2 separate regions of the Homo sapiens genome follow, and region 2 is linked to region 1. A link means that fine-mapping ties the variant in region 1 to the expression of a gene that starts in the linked region. Tissue or cell type: lung. Region 1 holds a variant in brackets; the other region holds the start of a gene. All regions are shown on one strand. Distances are from middle to middle.

The links. PIP is the estimated chance that this variant, and not a neighbour inherited with it, causes the effect.
Region 2: TMEM132C starts here. The variant in region 1 is the best candidate, but not a certain one, in a credible set for the expression of TMEM132C in lung (TOPMed, PIP 0.58).

Annotation. Positions count from the first base shown.
Region 1 is chr12:128,284,715-128,290,086 of GRCh38, forward strand. All of the region lies in intron 1 of TMEM132C (transmembrane protein 132C), which reads left to right. Among named protein-coding and RNA genes, the nearest start is that of MIR3612, 6.7 kb to the right of the region's middle. The variant T/C (reference allele first, on the strand shown) is at 2,529.
Region 2 is chr12:128,264,949-128,270,320 of GRCh38, forward strand. It overlaps TMEM132C (transmembrane protein 132C), which reads left to right and starts at 2,222. Exons shown (of 9, transcript NM_001136103.3): 1 at 2,222-2,539. The coding sequence starts at 2,455. LOC107987176 (a long non-coding RNA gene) reads right to left here and starts at 2,084. Exons shown (of 2, transcript XR_001749176.1): 1 at 1,623-2,084. RefSeq lists enhancers at 1,368-1,889, 2,425-3,263.

The DNA of each region.
Region 1 (5,372 bases):
AAGTCAGTGGCTTAAGTTAATTGGAATTATGTAAAATAAGAAAATGATATAGATGAATTTGGGATAAATTATCATTTTAATAATAATAACCCTTTCTAAGGCTATGGTATCTCATAGAATAGAAGTAAAGAGTAGAAGACAGCCAGCATGGTGTCTCATGCCTGTAATCCCAGTACTTCGGAAGGCTGAGGTGGAAGGATTGCTTGAGCCCAGGAGTTCAAGACCAGCCTAGGCAATGTGGTGAGAACCCAGCTCTACCCCAAAAAATAAACACAAAAAATTAGCTGGGCGTGGTGGTGAGTGCCTTTAGTCCCAGCTACTTGGGAGACTGAGGTAGGAGGATTGTTGACCTTCAGAGGTGGAGGTTGAAGTGAGCCAAGATTGCACCACTGCACTCCAGCATGGGAGACAGAACAAGACCCTGTTTAGTGAGGTAGGAGGGATAAGTTCCAGCACTGCAGGGTGACTATGATGAACAACAATTTATTGTATATTTTCAAATACCTAGAAGAACAGATTTTGAATGTTTTCAACAAAAATGGTATTTGAGGTGATTGATATGCAATTACTCTGATTTAATCATTACACATTTTGTACATTTATCAGAATATCATATTGTACCCCATGCATATGTACAATTATTGTGTTTTAATTACAAATAGGAATGAAAACAAAAAAAAAGACATTTTAGTAAATAAATAAAATTATCTTATCACCAGCTTTTAAAAGATTAAAGAGCTTAATGTCGTTGCCAGGGAAGAACATTAGACTCTTAAACACAAGTAACAGGTTAACACCAGTGTAGGCAGCAGAGGAACTTTTACAGACAGGCAAGCCAAGGAAAGATTGACTAAAAGAGGAGAGGAACCAGCCGGACCCAGGGGTTCACTGGGATTTGAATAGGGCGTCAAGGACATATTCATTCTCTCTCTCTCTCTCTCTCCCTCTCCCTCCCCTCGCCCCCATCTCTCTCTCCCCATCTCTATCCCTCTGTCCCTTTCTCTCTTTCTCTCTCTCTCTCTCCCCATCTCTATCCCTCTCTCCCTTTCTCTCTTTCTCTCTCTCTCTCTCTCTCCCCATCTCTATCCCTCTCTCCCTTTCTCTCTTTCTCTCTCTCCCCATCTCTATCCCTCTCTCCCTTTCTCTCTTTCTCTCTCTCCCCATCTCTATCCCTCTCTCCCTTTCTCTCTTTCTCTCTCTCCCCATCTCTATCCCTCTCTCCCTTTCTCTCTTTCTCTCTCTCCCCATCTCTATCTCTCTCTCCCTTTCTCTCTTTCTCTCTCTCCCCATCTCTATCCCTCTCTCCCTTTCTCTCTTTCTCTCCCCACCTCTATCCCTCTCTCCCTTCCTCTCTCTCTCTCTCTCTCTCCCCATCTCTATCCCTCTCTCCCTTTCTCTCTCTCTCTCTGCCTCCTTCACACACACGCATGCTTTCATGGAGGCTTCATTCTCTCATTTGGATTTTCTACATTATGGGAAATGTGGCCTCTGAGAGCTCCTGGACTTCAGTTCTCAGGAAGGTCTTTGCTTCCCTTAGCTTATACGTGAACATTTCAGGAAACGACTCTGCCTTGCTTGGTGGAATGTGCCCACTCCTGGATGCAGGCTTACAAACTCAAATGCCTCCAGGGCCCCTGCTTAGACAGGAGTGAAGCACATTGATTGGGCTATGATGAACGGGAATATGATGCTCAGTTTGTGAGGCCAGGGCCACTCCCACATGGTGACAGCAGGTGAGAGTAGCTCTGGCCCCCATAGACAGTAGTGGGTGTGGGCAGAATAATTCCTAAGCCTTATTGATTTACATAAACCGGGAAATAAGGATATTTAAATATGAAATGGCAGCTTTCAAGTGTGGACAGCAAAATAAAAAATTGTTAAATGCTGTGTGGGACAAATAGTCTAGGTTATGACCTCAGGACCATTTTTCATTTCTGCCTTTGACCACTGAACTTTGATGGAAAGGATGAGATACTAGAAGTGGCTCAGTTTGGGCACACAGTCACCTGAGGCCAAAGCAGCAAGATCCACACAGACATTGAAGTTCCCATCCAGTCCATGCAGCTGGAGTTTTGAGATCCCTTCCCAGAAGAAGGGACGTGTTGGTACCAGAAGAAGGGAGAGAGGGAGTGCCGGGCACGTGAGATTATTGTCCATTGAACAGGATCCTGGAAAACTTGAGAGAGAGGGGTAGAAAGAGTAAAGATGTTGGTCAAGAGAATAAGAGAAAGAAGACGAAGAAAAACTATGTTATCTCTGCCAAATGATGCTGCTTTTCCAAGAAGGGCAGCGGTTTTGCCAGCACTACTTGTGATCATGTCTGTGAGAAATCTTGTTCCTTCTCCTTTAAGTTTTGCAGTCAGAGTTTCTCAGCCTCAGCACTGTTGACATGTTGGGCAAGATTATTGTTTATTGCTGGGGTGGGGGAGTGTCCTGTGCAGGGCTAGATGCCAGCAGCATTTTCCCTGCCCACACAGTTATGACAACCAAAAATGTCTCCAGCCATTGCCAAATGTCCCTTGGGTGCA[T/C]TGAGAACCTCTGGTTTAAATCCTGCCCACTCTGTATAAAGTACTTCCTGCATCAAAATATTGTCTTAAACTTTTTACTAGGAAATAATTTTAGGCTTTCAGAAAAGTTGCAAAAATAGTACAAAGAGTCTTACATACTTTTCACCTAGATTCCTCCAAATTAACATTTACCAGGTTTGTTTATCAGTATTTTTCTTAATAGCTTTGTCTGAATGTTTCTCTCTCTCTCCCCCTCTGTCTGCATATCTATATCTATATCTATATCTATATCTATATCTATATCTATCTGTGTGTGTGTCTCTAGGTGCAATTTTTCTGAATTAATTATTAGTAAGTTACACACATTATACCTCTATCATGTGTATTCCTTAAAATAAGGCAATTCTCTGATATAATCACATTGGTCAAAGTAAAATGGCATTGCTATGGTACTATTATGTATCTGCCTCCTTTATTCGAATGTTTCCAGTTATTCCATTACTGTTATTTAAAGCCAAAGAAAACTGATTTTTTCTGTTGGTCCAGCATCTCATGCTGTGCTTCCTTGTAATGTCTCTTTGTGTTTTTTTATCAGAAACAATTTCTCAGCCTTTTTTTGTCTTCATAACTCTGACGTGTTTGAAGAGTACAGGCCAGGTTTTTTAGAAGAATGTCCCTCAATTTGATCCGTGTTGATTTGGAGGTAATAGCTGCATTCATTTCGAATTGATCTAGCCCTTCCGGACATTGAGTTCTGAATTGGGATGATTGTGTGTTTGGTGCAGTCTTAATATCACTGTTGTCCACAGTTATCCCTGCAGGATCCTCTCTTACTTTTTTTTTTTTTTTTTTCTGAGATGGAGTTTTGCTCTTGTTGCCCAGGCTGGAGGGCAATGGCGTGCTCTCGGCTCACCGCGACCTCTGCCTCCCGGGTTCAAATGATTCTCCTGCCCCAGCCTCCTGAGTAGCTGGGATTACAGGCATGTGCCACCACGCCCAGCTAATTTTGTATTTTTAGTGGAGATGGGGTTTCTCCATGTTGGTCAGGCTGGTCTCAAACTCCCTACCTCAGGTAATCCGCCTGCCTCGGCCTCCCAAAGTGCTAGGATTACAGGCGTGAGACACCACGCCCAGCCCTCTCTTACTTTTAATGTCCCCATTATTGTGGCTGAAGGGCTCAGAAGCCCTCTGCCTCTGAGTAGGACACCCTCCTCTCCTTCCCTCCCCTGCAGCTGGGTCTGGGCTGTCCTGTTCTGGCGTGAGTGGTTTCTTCTGGCCCTGCCTCTTTATCTAGTAGAGTTCTGCCACTGAGTTTTCCCTGGGACAGCCACATGGGCACAGCTGTCTCCCAGGCAGCACTAGGGGAGGAGATCAGGCTCCCAGCTCCCCCAGCATGACACAGAGCTGGTGGGAATTTCAACAGGACTTTCTGAACGGTGAGGGACAACAGGGGCCCCATGTCACTGTGGAGGCTGGCACTCTTATATATTCATGGGTCAAACCCACTGTAGTCTCTGAAGTCTGGCACATGCTGTTGTACCTGAGTGTCACAGTCACAGGCTAAATAAGCCCTTTTCTTTTACAACCTTCCCTTCAGTGAGGGCTGAGGGAAATTCACATCTTCTTGCTTTCCCCTCCTTCCCTTGATTTCCCCAGGACAGCCAGCTCTTCTTGGCTTTTACTGCCCCGGAGAAGATGCTTAGACATACAGGCCTGCATGTGTGCACCGCCCCCCACACAGTCACACATTCACACACGCATGCATGTGCTCACACGCTCATGCTCATTAGCGCACACATGCACACTCACATTCACACATGCACCTCCCACACATTCACACACTCATGAACACACATGCACGTTCATTCACATGTGTGCCCACACGTGCACAAATACATATGCTCGCTAACACACACTGTAATGCATACATGCACGCTCATACGCATGCACTCACACACATACACCTGCATACTCTCACTTGTTCATTAATGCGCATATGCACCTATACACACCCTCTCACATGTTAACATACATGCACACTTATACACACGCACACATGCTCATGTGCGCACACACACACAGACACACATACGTGAATGCAGCCTTGTGACTAGCCGTTAGTTTTTAAGAACAAGGGAATCTAAATCCAGATTTAGGAATTTAAAAATGTCCCTAACTCCGTGGGGCACAGTCCTGTTAGTACATCTATTTGCGTGACTAACCAAAACAGTGAATATCTTCATTAGAGTTAATGGTAACTTTACAGTTTTCTCCAAGAACACGGCGTACCTGGTTTATAGGGGTGCAGCTGAAAACACATGCAAGCACACACACTCACAACACATTTTGGAGAATATTCTGAAAGAAAGTAGGCCCAAGAGGTGTATTTAACGTCCCCATCTTCAAAGACAGAAAATTGCTGGTAACTTTTAAATCAGCATTTTCTAATTTGCAGTCTGCCCTATATGATTCTCAATAATTTTTGGCCTATATTGGTATCATCTGCACTTCCATTTACTTAACAACAGCTTTTCTCTATTTCAAGTCTTTTAATCTGAGCTTTGCCCTAAGCAATCATTTCCATGAAAGTCACTGTTTTACATACTAATTGCATTTTCCCCAAAACATCAAGCTAAATACATAACTGATAGCATGTTTAAAGGTCCTATGTTTCACCTCAAATTATCTCATATTTCACATGAGGCAAACCCTGTCCTGAGGCCCTGATGAAGATGGGCAGGCAGATCTGATATCAGCTGCTTTTCTTTCCTTGATGGAACCTCTGGATTGCGTGCCCTATCCTATAATGTGAAAAAAGGGCTTCCAGAAAAGGTGGAGGAATTACTTTCTGAAATTCTGAAAGGC
Region 2 (5,372 bases), 20 kb before region 1:
GAAGCTTTCATTTGCTGGGTCTCCTGAAGGCTCTCACAGGGGATGCCCGGAGGCATCATAGTCTCAAGGGGCATCTGTGATTCAGGATCACCTGAAGACAGTGGCTGCCTTTGGGGTGCTGTGCAGTGAGCTTATCTGATTGAGAATCCTTTCCCCACTCCAACCCCATGTTGAATTAGTATTTATTTTGCTGTGGCTTGTTTGGTAGCCCCTGGTTTTGATTATTTGCATCACAGAGATGTAGTCCAGGACCTGACTTGTCTTTGCAGTAGGGACAGCAATGTTCTGTGCCAAAAGGAAAGAAATGATGTGGAAAGAAGGTACATTATGAGGCTGCATAGAACAGGGGAGTGGAGGGCACTTCTTTGGGTTTTTATTTTTTGTCCCTGTTATCCAATAGGGAGGAGAGAGGATAAGGCAGATTCCCATCCTCAGTTACAAACAATGGGACATGTGTATTTCTCCCTCATGCTGGGAACATTTAAATGAAAAAAAAATTATTCCCCGGTGATGTTCAGGCTCAAAGCACTGAGAATAAAACGTACCTTCCGTTTTAGGAGCCCAAATCTACTTTACAACTGCCCCCTGCCCCCAAGGTCAGGTCTACACTAGCTGAATGTACTGAAGAATTGGGCGATTATCAGCATAATCCACTTTAAAAATCAAGTCTCTGCTATCCAGGCCTATGAGAATCAAGCTTTTACCGTTCCCTTTGGGGCCTGGATAGTTTTCAAGCTGCCTTCTCCTCACATCATGTGAGTAGAGCCGGCCAAGAAAACCAGGGAGACATCTCCCCCCAGCCTGGCCCAGACTTCCGGGCCCCACCCCAGGAGAGAGCCTCCCACTCTGGCCAGTGCCCTGCAAAGCCTTCGCCCCACCCCGCCCCAATTTCTCCTTATGCCTGGCTCATTCCTTAGGGGCTGAGTTGGGAGATAAGACTTGGGGTTGCAGTTGCTGGGGATCATTCGTTTACATTTCTTTTCTTTCAATCAAGGACTTCTTTTTTTCTTTTGAAATTCTTTCCTGCACTGATGGTGAGAAAAGACCCCTCAGGCTTCCTTTTGATGTTGGACCGAGCCAGCCCACGGTGAGAGGGGATGCTGAGCCCGTGGTGAGGAGCTCAGGACAGGAGGGGACGTCCAGAGACCTCCGAACCCATGGCCCTTCATTCCCAGTCACAAGGGGGGAGTCGGGGTCCCGCCCTCAAACTGCTCAGACCACGCGTGGCAGAAAGAGCAGAGCATGAGCATCAGGAACCGCACAGGGAAGCCGCTGAGATCACCTGGGATCACCACCATGAGGGAGGCCAGCCCTGGAGAAATCAGAGGGAAAAGATAGAGAGAACGAAGTCGGGGGGGGGGGGGGGAGGGCGGATCTTCCTTGTCTGAGTCTGCAGAGAAATTGCCTATTGCAGGAGCAAGTCTAGAGAGGGGCTATTCTCCACCCACTGAAAAGATAATAAAACACATGCTATGGGCGGCGGGGAGATGATTGGGGAGTGGAAGCCCCACAGACATGCAGTGAAAAATGATCCTTTCTTCCCCTCTGCGTTCTCGTCCCCTTCCCAGAGACACCGCTGTGATCTCGTGCCTCGCCCCCTCCGCACACGCACAGGTGCACACCCGCATCTGTCTTGAGCCCGCACCCCGCCTTCACGCTCCGCTGCGCGCTGCTTTTCCGCGCTCAGTGATCCAGTTAGGAGCTCTCCCCGCAGCAGCTGCGCGGGACTTTGCATTCCAGATGTCCCCAGCCCTCCAGGCTAAAGCAGCGGCCACCTGAAGTTGAGGAATGGGGCGTGACGACCACCAGGTCCCGCAGTGACCACGGGAGGGTGGGGAGAAGGAGTCCAGCTCCGCCTTGAGCGTCGGGTCCCTGGGCAGGACCCTCCGGGCCACGGGCCGCTGTCCGTTGGGCACCCGGGCAGGAGTCTGCGAACGCTGAGTTTCTCTGGAAAGGCGCGGACCCCCGGAGGAGCCGTCCCAGCCGCCTGGGGAGACGCCCCCTCCTCTCCCGGTCTTCTTTCCCGGGCACACCCTCCCTAGCCCGGGCGGGGGGGTTCTCCATCTGCCGCCCCTCCCGGCGGGCAGGCGAACTCTCTCCTACCGCACCCTCAATCTGTCCGCGGTCGCGGGGCTCGGCGGGGGCGGGGCCCGGGCGGGGGCGGGGGCGGGGCCGGGGGCGGGGCGGGCCGGCGGCTGCGGAGGCTGCGGAGGCTGCGGGAGAAAAGTTGTCCCGGCCGGAGCGCGAGCAGCGGCGGAGCCGGAGCCGCCAGAGCCAGAGCCGGAGCTGCGGCGGCGTGGACCCGGCAGGGGCGGGCCTCGGACAGCAGAGACGCAGCGGGCCCGGCCGACCGGGCTGCGGGAGTGGCCCCGGGCATGGGGCGGCCGGCGGGGGCCGCGGGCGGGCGCTGCGCTTCGGGCTGGCGGCGGGCTGCGTGAGCGGCCGGGACGCAGGATGCGCTCCGAGGGTGCGGCCCCCGGGCCGGCGGCGCCGCTGTGCGGGGCGCTGAGCCTGCTGCTGGGCGCGCTGCTGGGCAAAGGTAAGGCCGGGGCGGGTGCCTGGCGCGCCGACGCATGCGAACTTCCCGGTTCCGGGGGAGCTCGGGGTGAGGGCAGCCGAAGCGAGGGGTGCGGCGGGGGCCTCGGCGGGGGCTCGGATCCCATCAACAGCGCCTCTGCGGGTGCCGAGCCGCCCCTAATCCAGAAGGGCGCTCCCAGCTGGGCGCCGGGATCCGGGCAAGTTAGGCTGGTCCCGAGTCCCGAATCTCCCACCCCGGACCCCCCAGACCCAGAGCTGCCCCGCGGATGAGGAGGGGGCGTGGCTGAGGGACACGGTGTTTGTTCCCCATCCCTGAGTTCCGTGCGGACCTGCCCCAGCCCCAGCACAGTCACCCTGTGGAACTGGCATCCAGGAGAGGTGCTCCGCTCTGTGCGCTCCTTCCTCCCGGCTGTGTGCTCCCTGTCCACAGCTCCCCATCCACAGCTTCGGCACTGTGGGGCTGGTGCTCCAGGAGGGAAGGCCCGGTTCTTTGCATCCCCTTTCCGCAACCGCTAGGGTCTCTGTGCGGGCCCTAGAGGAACGCTCACTCATCGCGCAGCTCACCAGGGACCCCAGCTTGGCAGAAACCAGGGGCTCTCTGCGGGTTCTCTCAAATGAGTCCTTTGCGGTGGGGGAGCGCGGATGGGGAGGTGGGTGCGTCCCTCGCGACGGGAACTACCTCACCAGCGGTCCTGTCCGGGGCTCCTTCACCTCAGTGTCCTCTTCTCTACAATGGGAGTGACGGCCCTGCTTTGGGTTGGAGGAATTTAAAGGAGTTAACGTATGGCGCCCGCAGGGCTCACGAAAGGTAGCCGTGTGGTTTTTCCGACCTTTTTTATTATGTGCGTGTGCGGCCGAGTGGCCGCGCGGATGCGGCGGCGGGAAGGGCGGGGAGAGGCGGTCTCCAGCCCCAGGAGCCGCGGGGCAGGCGGGGAGCAAGGCCTAGGCTCTGCCAGGGCAGCAGCTGCCCGAGTCCCGGGGCGCGCCCAGGGCGTAGAAAAAGGAGAGCGTCGCTTTCCTGCTCCCCGCGCCCTGGCGAAGGTCTCGGGTTCATTTGGTTAAACGGAGGTGCGCACATGGGTGCCCTGAGCCTTCGCGCGGCGCCGCGGGTCCAGTATCGGCCCCAGGCTCTGAGCAGAGAACACTCAAAGCCACCCTTCTCCCGCCTAATGCTCTGAGGCTGAGCTAGAAATGCGTTCAGAGAGACAAGTTGTCAATGGAGGTTTAAAAGTAGCGTTTGCTTTTCAAAAGTCATTCTGCACCGCCTGAAAATCCAGAAAAATCTACTTTCCTTGAGGCTGCGCTTTCCCAGATACACCAACCAGACAAGTTTGCTATGTTTTATATAAGTGTTCCTTTCTTCCAAGAGCTCCAGGTAGGGAGGAGGGTGGGGTGAGAGAGGGGGGGGAAGAAGGAGTGAGAGAAGAGGGAAAGAGAGGGTGGGGCGAGAGAGGGGGGAAAGGGGGTGAGAGACGAGGGAAAGGGGGGGCAAGTCGGGGGTGGAGGAGTAGGAGAGGGGGGCACTTTTCTATTTTATTTGAAAGAGTCAACAGTCACGATCTGGTGCCTGAATTCTGCTGTTAATTAGCTCTAGGTTCCAGCGTTTCTAGGATTCAGTTTTCCTAGATGCAAAGTGGCCATTGAAGAATTCCCTTCCCAACCTACCTCCCAGCAGTTTTTTGTTGATAAAATGACTGAATGGGTAGTAAAGCACTTTGCAGAGGAAGGCGGTGCTAATTGAGCAGGGCGTGACCGACCTCCTCCGGGTTTTCACCCCTTGCCCTTGAGAGAATTTAACCAGGCGAACTGGATGTTCCCTTTAAAGCAAGTGTGGACTGTTCTTCATTAAGGCTCACATTCCGTGTGTGTGTGTGTGTGTGTGTGTGTGTGTATCCAGAGGATTTTACTTTTGATTACGAGAGTGGCTGTTACAGATGTCCATGTGTTCAGTGCTGGGGGCAGTGATTTGGCTGGAAAGGCAACTGGGACTGGATTTGAAGCTGATATTTGCACAACAAGGGAAAGTGCTGAAAACTAGGGACGTAGCGAAGCCCCACCCCTATCCCAAACCGCCTCTGCCCTCTAGCTAAGTGCAACCTTGATTTGATGGGGCTTTCTTTCCCTGCTTTTTGCTTTACAAAGTTCACCACGTGATTTGGGGGTGCATAAGGGCCTGCAACTTATCATCTGCAAAATACATTTTCCGTTTGTTTCTCATGATCAAAAGCAGCAGTTCATTCCCCCCTCGGATTCCTCCACACGTAAAGCGTTTGCACCGTAAGATATCTTCTAGAGAGGAAAGTTTGCTGACCTTGTTTACATTTCTGCTGTCTTTAAAAAAAAAAAGCCATCTCTGTCTCTTCCTGCACACGGATTTAAGTGCTGATTTCTGGAATCCTTGAAACCACTGATTAATTTTTAATACCAATTGTCTGTTTATTTTTGACTGTGGATTTAGAGGCTTTGCAATTTGTCAGGGTTCGGAAAAGGCAGAATTGTTCTTGGGAGGTTCCATAAATAGGACAGGGCATTGAAAGAAAGAAATCTTTTCCTAAGATTTAAGACTTGGGCCGAGGCAGGAGAGGCAAAACATCCTTGAATTAGAGGTTGATGTATTGCGCCTGTATAAAGCAAGTGGAAGGGCGGTGCCAGGCTGAGATGCCCTCGGAAGTTTAGTGATGGTTGTTAGTCACATATGAGACCTTCTGGGAAGGTTATGTGGGACCACATTCTCTTTTCTGAAATCTGTGGGGGCAAATGTATTTCAAGATTTAGAATTACTGATATCTTTGAATGACAAGATAGAAGGAAAGATAGAAAAATAGAGGCATGAA